Linked DNA regions of Homo sapiens: region 2 is reported to be linked to region 1. Evidence: microRNA targets listed by miRTarBase, many of them from high-throughput screens and not tested one by one. Region 1 holds a microRNA gene; the other region holds the end of a gene's coding sequence.

What was found. Region 1 holds the annotated microRNA hsa-miR-3977 (GUGCUUCAUCGUAAUUAACCUUA, at 1,737-1,759, shown strand). A microRNA usually pairs through its seed, bases 2 to 8, with sites in the 3' UTR of a target mRNA and lowers its output. Matches are read on the target gene's strand: a 7mer-m8 pairs with bases 2 to 8, a 7mer-A1 pairs with bases 2 to 7 and ends in A, and an 8mer does both.
Region 2: the mRNA of ZNF664 is a reported target of hsa-miR-3977. Seed matches in the 3' UTR shown: 7mer-A1 at 1,286-1,292.

The regions. Positions count from the first base shown.
Region 1 is chr5:82,838,421-82,843,596 of GRCh38, forward strand. MIR3977 (microRNA 3977) reads left to right here and starts at 1,735; the gene lies at 1,735-1,804.
Region 2 is chr12:124,012,428-124,017,427 of GRCh38, forward strand. ZNF664 (zinc finger protein 664) reads left to right here. Exons shown (of 5, transcript NM_152437.3): 5 at 1-3,000. The coding sequence ends at 503. All of the region lies in intron 2 of ZNF664-RFLNA (ZNF664-RFLNA readthrough), which reads left to right. Among named protein-coding and RNA genes, the nearest start is that of ZNF664-RFLNA, 42 kb to the left of the region's middle.

The DNA of each region.
Region 1 (5,176 bases):
AGAAGGGACTATAGAGCAGAAACCCTGACCCAATGGCTACCTTTGGGTAAGTGCTGGGGTCCTGTAACATCACCATCAGCAAATCATTTAGCCCTTCAGGAATGCAGTGTTGTCACCTACAAATGGAAATATTTCTAGCCACATCTTCTCCTTCACAGGGTTGTTGTGAATATTGGGTAAAATCATACTGTGCAAAGTGATAATATTTCAAAAGTCTCCTGCTAAGCTGCAATACCTCAACTGAGAAGGGCTTATTATCACCCATAATCACATTCATGGATGACTAATTCTCATCAGCTTTCTCTCGGAGATGGAACATAAGCTCAAGTGATCTCAGGAAATGTCCATAGCAGGAAACACAAAGCTGGACATCAGAAGGACGCTGAGAAGACAGATGACAACAAAGGACAGGGGGTGTTGAAGAGGAAACTTGTCCAGGACCAGAATTACTGGGAACATGAATTTACAGCATTCCAAAGTCCTTACAGTTTAATGAAAGGAGAGGCAGTCCTTTGAACTCAAGTTTTAAAGATGTTACATTTAAAAGGCACATGCAACAGAATAGGCCCTTTCCAAGAAACAATAGCGTTTAAGTGCTGGCACAATTACCAGCAGGTTTTCTATGTTAAATATATATTCTGAAAATAGAAAGGACATTTCATACAACTTTTTCTTTAACCAAACAATCAAGAAGCAAGTGGTACAGCTCTCAGACCTTCAGATGACAATTACTGAACTCAGGGAAGAGAAATGTTTCTTCCCCTGGGACCTCTAAAATTACTGGTAACATGACTATGGAAAATGTGTCAAATAAACCAAAGCACCAACTTCAGAGACGGAAAGTCATTGGCTTTCCTGTGAAAATATCAAATATTTCACAGTTACTTGGCCAAATGTATGCTCACATTAGGTCAACAGAACATATTGTAATATTTTTCATTTATCCTGCTCTGCATGTATTATTAACATATTACAAATAAAATGAAAGTGATAGGTAGGAGAGAGTGCAGACTAGATGTCTTTATGGTCTAATTCGTTTTGATGAAGGCAGTTGCTATAAGGCACTTTCCCATTCAGGGGTTTAAGTCTTCCAGCCTTGGGCATAAGGAGCAGAAGAAATCCTTGGTGTAGAAATAAATGAAATAAAGAAAACAGGACTAAGGAGATGCTCTACCAAGTGGGGGATTCTAAGAGCCAAATTTTCTTCAATTTGTTTACTCATTCGTAAAAGGAATTCACACATCAATTATTGATTGAAACCCTTTAATGTGCCAGACACATGGAGGGGGACATGTTGCAGGGAGAGCAGGAGGGAAGTGGATGAGGCCTTTGCTCTTAGGAAGCTTCCAATCTAGGAGAGAAGACTTCTATTAAACAATAATTAAACAAAGCGCCACATCACTATTTGGATAGAGAATGGGTATTGAAGGGAGATGAACAGAAACTCAACTGGGGCTATAGATATCTACGTTAATGTCTTCAACCTCTTCCTTTCCTCAGATTGCTATATGCCTCCATGCTTTTGATTCTCTCTCTTCCTTTCCCTCTCTTCCAGTGTTCCACTGATTTTAGCAACAATTAAAAAAAAATCAAAAAAAAAAAAACAAGGAGTGGGGCAAGCCTTGGGTTGTGTGCCAGAAGCTGAAGAAACTCCTTAGCTCAGCATAGAATCAAATGCTAGCTTCTGTGGCAGCCAAAGTGAATCTATCAGACTAATGACATTCACAGTCTACATTGTGCTTCATCGTAATTAACCTTAAGTGGTTCGGGTAAATCACTTTAATTTGTTATGTGTTGGCAGAATCAAACTACTTTTTTTGCTTCTTCTTTGCCTTTTAGTTTAATCTTGTTTATCATCAACATCATAGCTTATGCTAGGAAATTATCAGTGGAAGCCCCTGTTTTCTACTATCTGAAATTCCTTCCACAATGGAAAGAAAGGGGAGTGGTGTCTTGCATCTCAACATGATAGCTGGCATGAATGAGAGTGAAGAGCCTCTTTCCAAGCAGTTTTTGTGTTTTTAATTTCACATTCTTTTACTTGAAGAGGGCCCCCAAATCTTGGATCCACCCTTAAATGATATTAAGACTAAAAAAGTATATAACCCATAAGAATAAAAAATGTTGACTAAAATAGATTGATATCATATCAGTGGGACATCAGAATAAAAGACATATTTGTGTGTGAGACAGAATAATAAAGGGAAGAAAAGGGCATAGAAATAAACATAGCTGGGCTGAGCGCAGTGGCTCATGTCTATAATCTCAACCATTTGGAGGGCTGAGAGAGGAGGATCCCTTGAGCTCAGAAGTTTGAGACTAGCCTGGGCAACATGTTGAGACCCCATAGCTACAAAATTTTTTTTAAAAAATTAGCCTGTAGTGCCAGCTACTCAAGAGGCTGAGGAAAGAGGATCACTTGAGCCAGGAGGTTGAGGCTGCAGCGAGCTGTGATCACACCACTGCACTCCACCCTGTATACAGAGCAAGACTCTGTCTCAAAATAAATAAGTAACTGGTTTATTCTACCTTTGGTTGGGATGGAGCATTCTTCAAACATTCAATGAATATTTACTGTGCACTCCTATGTGCCAGGCACAGTTCCAGAAAAATGAGATACATCAGGAAACAAAACAATCAATAATGCCTACCTTGTGGAGCTTACATTCTAACAAGGGAAGATAGACAATAAACACTAAGCATATTAAGTAAGCATATATTGCATTAGAAGGTGATAAGCATAATGGGAGGATTGGGAGTTTGGGGTAAGGACATAGAAGATTTGAAAAACACAATCAACCAACAAGATAGATGCCATACTCTGTATATGAATACTCCACGCAATAATAGCAGCAGTCACATTTTTTTCTTGCACCCATAGAATTTCAAGATAAACAATATCCTGGAAAATAAAATGAACTTAGATAATTAAAAAGAGAAGGAAGACATTTGGCTTTTACTGAGAATGAACTGAGGCTCATTGTAGGGTGTTGAACAAAAGGGACCTTGTAAGGCTGTTCTGGCTATTGCATTTCCTCTTGTTGGGGAAGAGAGGCACAAAGCTAGAGGCTAAGAGAACAGTTAGGAGGCTGTTGCCACCACCTGAGTGAGAGATGGTGGTGGTTTGGGGTCAAGGTCTTAGCTTTGAAGGCAAAAAAGAGTAGCCTGATTGTGCTAACTTCAGGGAAGTATAATACAAAATTGTTTTAATATTGCTATCATTTGAAATAATAGGGGGAATAGTAACACACCGCATCTCAGAATAGAAGCACTATTATGTCTTTTTAAAAATTTTTTAATTTAATTTTATTTATTTATTTTTTATTGTACTTTAAGTTCTAGGGTACATATGCACAATGTGCAGGTTTGATACATAGGTATACGTGTGCCATGTTGGTTTGCTGCACCCATTAACTCATCATTTACATTAGGTATTTCTCCTAATACTATCCCTCCCCCAGCCCCCCACCTTATTACAGGCCCCAGTGTGTGATGCTCCCCACACTTGTCCAAGTGTTCTCATTGTTCAATTCCCACCTATAAGTAAGAACATGCAGTGTTTGGTTTTCTGTCCTTGTGACAGTTTGCTCAGAATGATGGTTTCCAGCTGCATCCATGACCTGCAAAGGACATTAACTCATCCTTTTTTATGGCTGCATAGTATTCCATGGTGTATATGTGCCACATTTTCTTAATCTAGTCTATCATTGATGGACATTTGGGTTGGTTCCAAGTGTTTGCTATTGTGAATAGTGCCACAATAAACATACCTGTGCATGTGTCTTTATAGTAGCATGATTTAGAATCCTTTGGGTATATACCCAGTAGTAATGGGATTGCTTGGTCAAATGGTATTTCTCATTCTAGATCCTTGAGGAATCACCACACTGTCTTCCACAATGGTTGAACTAATTTACACTCCCACCAGCAGTGTAAAAGCGTTCCTTTTTCTCCACATCCTCTCCAGCATCTGTTGTTTCCTGACTTTTTACTTACCGCCATTCTAACTGCTGTGAAATGGTATCTCATTGTGGTTTTAATATGCATTTCTCTGATGACCAGTGATGATGAGGACTTTTTCTTGTGTCTATTGGCTGCATACATGTCTTCTTTTGAGAAGTGACTGTTCATATCCTTTGCCCACTTTTTGATGGGGTTGTTTGATGTTTTTCTTATGAATTTGTTTGAGTTATTTGTAGATTCTGGATATTAGCACTTTGTCAGATGGGTAGATTGCAAAAATTTTCTCCCATTCTGTAGGTTGCCTGTTCACTCTGATGGTAGTTTCTTCTGCTGTGCAGAAGCTCCTTAGTTCAATTAGATCCCATTTGTCTATTTTGACTTTTGTTGCCATTGCTTTTTGTGTTTTAGTCATGAAGTCCTTGCCCATTCCTATGTCCTGAATGGTATTGCCTGGGTTTTCTTCTAGGGTTTTTATGGTTTTAGGTCTAACATTTAAGTCTTTAATCCATCTTAAATTAATTTTTTTATAAGGTGTAAGGAAGGGATCCAGTTTCAGCTTTCTACATATGGCTAGCCAGTTTTCCCAGCGCCATTTATTAAATAGGGAATCGTTTCCCCATTGCTCATTTTTGTCAGGTTTTTCAAAGATCAGATGGTTGTAGATGTGTGGTGTTATTTCTGAGGCCTCTGTTCTATTCCAATGGTCTATACCTCTGTTTTGGTACCAGTACCATGCTGTCTTGGTTACTGTAGCCTTGTAGTATAGTTTGAAGTCAGGTAGCATGATGCCTCCAGCCTCTTGGCAATGCGGGCTCTTTTTTGGTTCCATATGAACTTTAAAGTAGTTTTTTCCAATTCTGTAAAGAAAGTCATTGGTAGTTTGATGGGGATGGCATCGAATCTATAAATTACCTTGGGCAGTATGGCCATTTTCATGATATTGATTCTTCCTATCCATAAGCGTGGAATGTTCTTCCATGTCTTTGTGTCCTCCTTTATTTTGTAGAGCAGTAGTTTGTAGTTCTCCTTGAAGAGGTCCTTCACATCCCTTGTAAGTTGGATTCCTAGGTATTGTATTCTCTTTGTAGCAATTGTGAATGTGAGTTCACTCATGATTTGGCTCTCTGTTTGTCTGTTATTGGTGTATAGGAATGTTTGTGATTTTTGCACATTGATTTTGTATCCTGAGACTTTGCTTAAGTTGCTTATCAGC
Region 2 (5,000 bases), not on the chromosome of region 1:
CCTTCAATTGGAGCTCCCATCTTCAAATTCATATGAGAGTTCATACAGGTGAGAAACCGTATGTCTGTAGTGAGTGTGGAAGGGGCTTTAGTAATAGTTCAAACCTTTGCATGCATCAGAGAGTCCACACCGGAGAGAAGCCCTTTAAATGTGAAGAGTGTGGGAAGGCCTTCAGGCACACCTCCAGCCTCTGCATGCATCAAAGAGTCCACACAGGAGAGAAACCCTATAAATGTTATGAGTGTGGGAAGGCGTTCAGTCAGAGTTCGAGCCTCTGCATCCACCAGAGAGTCCACACTGGAGAGAAACCCTATAGATGTTGTGGATGTGGGAAGGCCTTCAGTCAGAGTTCGAGCCTGTGCATCCACCAGAGAGTCCACACAGGAGAGAAACCTTTCAAATGTGATGAGTGCGGAAAGGCCTTCAGTCAGAGTACGAGCCTCTGCATCCACCAGAGAGTCCACACAAAGGAGAGAAACCATCTCAAAATATCAGTTATATAAAACGTTTTGCTAAGAGTTTAAAATCTTAAAACCCATAAGTGCCACTAGGAAGGAAACCCTGTATATACCTACATTGACCCAAGAAATATTTACGCAATCCCTAGCAGAACATTGTTTCTGAGGAGGCATATGTGAGATTGATTTGTTGGTTCATGCCAAGTGTGTTCCACAGGTTGACTTTGAATGTGGACCTCTGAGCATCCACGCAGGATGGCTCTCAGGTCCCAGTCACAGACGTCGCTTCCTGGGATTCCAGCACGATGCCTCCATAGTTGAAAGACTACACAAAAAGCCACAATCATTGCCCGGCCTCCTGAGTCACCTTCTATCTATACTTTGCTTAAAAGCTATCCCAGATACTCCCCCTTGAGGAGCTCATGCCCTTCCTTCCTCTTTATTCGAGCATACTGGCAATGCATTGGAAAACAGACAGCTCCCACTAAGATCACGTTCTGGTATTTCTGAGGTTAACACTTGATTTAGCCCCTACATATCTTTCCATATATCCTATTATTTCTGAATATATGTCCTCAAAATCCCCATAAATATCCATCCCTTCCTAGATGGCATTAACTTTCATTTTAGATTTTAGGTGACTCATAATTCCCATTCACTTAGCCTATCAGAAAAGTCATTGGCAGACATATATGTCCTTGAACCTTTTTTATTTGTGTGGATTCTGCTCATCACTGTCTCTGTTAGACTTATTTTGTAGTGGCTGCATCACATATTTTTCACTTGAATTTTTTTGGAAATAGCTGAATGTAAATAGCAGGGAGGAAGAAGCAAGCAAAGTGAGAGCTTTTCTTCATCCAGAATTGCCCTCTGGGCTCCTTTGGTAACAGATGGAGCTCCTTCCTAGCTAGGGAGACCTTATGAGAAGTGGATGGTAGGAGGAGTCACTAATGTTTCAATCTCTATTTCTGTAATCTTGGGCAATAATGCATAGGAGTTCTTGATACCCCTTCATTGATTACTGTGTATCAGTTCTTTGTTAGGCATGAACGTCTTTATTAATCCATCATTCTTTTCTTCATTCAACAAATATGTATTGAACACCTCCTATATGCCAGGCACTGTGCTAGGTGCTGGGAATACCACTGATGAGACAGACAAGGTCCCTACTCTTGTGGAGTTTACTTCTGGTGGAGGAGACAGATGATAAGTAAACAAATAAATAATGTAGTTTGAGATAGTGATTAAGTGCTATGAAGAAAATAAACTAGGGTGATGATTTTAGTGGTGGGGTGGGGTGGGGGTGGGGTGACATTAGCTAGTGGTCAGGGAGGCCTTTCCGCGGTGGGATGTTGAGCTGAGGCCGGAGGAGAAGTAGCAGTCGCTGGCAGAGCACACAGGCTGCTCTGGGGGATGAGCTGGTGCGTTTAAGGAACAGGCCAGCACTGGCATTCGCAAGCAGTGGGGAAGGGGAGAGATGCCGAGGTGGTCAGTATCCTGACTTTCAGAGGCCTTTTTTTGTTTGTTTTAATTTTTGCTAGATTGATATTAAAAACTCATGTGGAGGAACTCAAGGAATGTTTAGAAGACCAAAAGTCCCCAATGACAGGAACAAAAGCAACCAATTTTTAACTTTCTCTTCTCATTCCTGTTTTCATTGATTTCCCACATGTAGTCCTTTTGCTCAGGAAGTCTTTGGGGAAATTAAGGATCTTTGAAGCTCTGAAATAGGTGATCAGGTTAGTGGTGTCTGTCAGCTGTCTAAGAGGTTGGAAAATGAACTACTCAAGATAGTCACGAAAATACTGAAAGTTTGATTTTTCTTTCCATATTTGAATTAATTTTTTCTGTTTGACTGGAAGGGGTTTTTGTATAACTAAAACCTCAGCGCATAAAGGAGATTTAAAAGGAGCACATGATTTAGTGGGTGGGCCATGAAACTAGAGATGGGATTTGGGGGTGAATTTGTCAATATCTGGATTTTAATCCAGACATCTCTGCTAACAAGCCTTTGGTAAGTCACTTCAGATACTTTTCCTCCTTTTTACAAAGAGAGGGCTGGCTTAGTTATTTGCCAAAGCCCCTTCCAGGCCTGAATTCCACAAGTACGATTTACTGTAGTGTCTTATCACTCTTTCATGTCACAATAGCGTGGAGCATTAGAGAAAAGCCTAGACTTTTAGTTGATAGCCAGTTGAAATATCATTGATAGAATTTTAGTTTTAGGAAAAATTGGTTTGATTTCTAGCTTTATTACTATTAGGTATGTGAGCTTGGGCAAATCGCTTAATCTTTGAGTCTAGTTTTCTCTCAAAATGAGAACATTAGGCTAAATGATTTCCGAGTTTCCAGCTAGTCCTAGAGTTCTATATTTCTACATAGTTGAATTATTTTATCATGCTGTTGCTGGGGAATATGACTAACCCTTTTGAAGCTACTAATTTTATGTCGAGCTTTAAAGTCCATAATTGTTATCTTCAGAAAATATTATTTGACCTACAGTATGTCCAAATCAATTTAATAAAATCGCTTTATAACAGGGTTCTGTGCTTGACATGTAGTTGTGTGAATTCAGTGGTCGTGTGTGGGAGTATGGGTATGGGTGTGTGGTGGAGAATTGGCTTGCACATTAAGCCCAGGGTGACCATGTAATTTATTGTCCAAACTGAGCACTTGAGAGTGAAGGGAGGGGGTGCTGTTGATACTCACATCTGGACAACAAGCCTCGAATGGGCCTTTCTCGGGCACACTAAGGTGTGAGGACACCTTGGTCTGAGGTCACAGCCACACAGGTAATAAATGACTCAAGTCAGGAATAATCCATCTGGAGAGAGCACAGTCCACTGAGAGGACTGCCTCAGCTCGGCTGTGGCTCTGTGTTCACGGCGAATACAGGCCCACAGCTCTTCTAAGAAAACACCAACCTCGATTTTCACACACAGTTTAATCTTAAAATGTTGGCAGCTAATTCCTTTTCCTTGGGTGATCCATTTTGGTGCTTTCTGTGATCTTCCTGGTGCCCCTTGGCAGTTCCTCCAAGCCCTGCCCTGGCCCCTGCTGACTGCAGCCCATGCCTGGGAAGGCGTGAAGTGCTGTCAGCTGAAGCAGAGGGGGCCCACGTTCTGTGCCGCAGTCAACAGTCTGACTGGCTGTGGCGTCTACCAGCTTTGAGAGACAAGTCTGCATTGCAATTCCACCATTGGGATGGGAGCAACCCAAACTAGCCCTTCTGATGGGGGTGGGGGGTGGGGGCAAGGGTAGGTCATCTGTGATGGGATTCACTCTTGGTGAATCTGCTAGGATTTAGAGTGTGAGCCAAGATAAGTCCAGAATGACTGCATGGTTTCTAACTTGGAAGCATGAATAAACGGCAGATTGCCTCTTGCAGATAGGAAGAACTCTTTGCATCAGAGTCCAACATTGAGATAGTCTACTGCGTGAGAATGTGGGCACAGCTCGTCAGGCCATCTCAGAAATTGAAGAGGGATTACTTTGTGTTGTGTGAGCATGGACATGATTCCTTCCAAGGGACCTTCTAGCTCTTGGCTCTGTTCTTAAAATTTTTGAATTATTTCTCAGTCTTTGTAATGTACTGATATTCTCAGAAATTTGAAAAACTAGGTGAATGGAAAGCAAATATCAGAAGCAGATGGAAAATATACTCAGTGGTAAAATCTAGGAAAAGATGAGAAAGGTTGATACTACTACAGGGCAAGAGCCATATATAAATAGCAAAGCTGAGTTAAGATCTATGGATTAGAGAGGAAGAGAGGAAAAATGAAGATGATAGAGCACTTCCTCTAACCATATTCATTTTCTTAATTTTTCTAAACCTCAAGTTTCTCATCTTTAAAATGGTTTTGAAAATATCTAATTCATGGAAATGTTGGGAGAAGTAAATAAACGTAAAGTGCCTAGCATTTAGTGCTATAACGAATTCCTATTCCCAGTTGCCTATTAAGGAAGAAAGGTCATGTTATTTGGATTCCTTTTTGTTTTGCTGAGCTCTGTGGTGGGTTTGGACATCTAAAATTGGGGTAGGACCTGGAGAGGGCTGAATTGCTCCACATGGTAAGAGAGAGAACTTGAATCTCCTGGGGTAGTTGGAGGTAAGAAAACAAAGGGTAGACTTGGAGTGGGAGAGAGGACCAGGGAACCAGTGGAGTAGGATGGTCTGAAGTTCTGAGCTCTTGTGTAGGAAAACTTCGTGACCACAAAGTCTTTCCCTAAAGTTAGGGGTGTTTGGCATGGTGGATTTCTTATGGAAACTGGTGGAAGGGCTGAGTGCTGTATCCAGGGTGAAATGGGGCAACACGTAAGTACCACACATAAATATAGGAGCCAGAAGAGGGTGCCCCTGAGAACAAGCTCCAAGGAATATGCAGAATATGCAGAAATCTTCAGGGTAGCTAAAAGCTGCTACAGGCCATGGAATTAATGGAGTTTTGAGTCAAGTTTACCCAAACCCCTAAGGGGCAGGGAGGCCTGGGATATCTTTATTTCCACTCTCAATGTACATGAAGTAGAATAACTTTATAATCA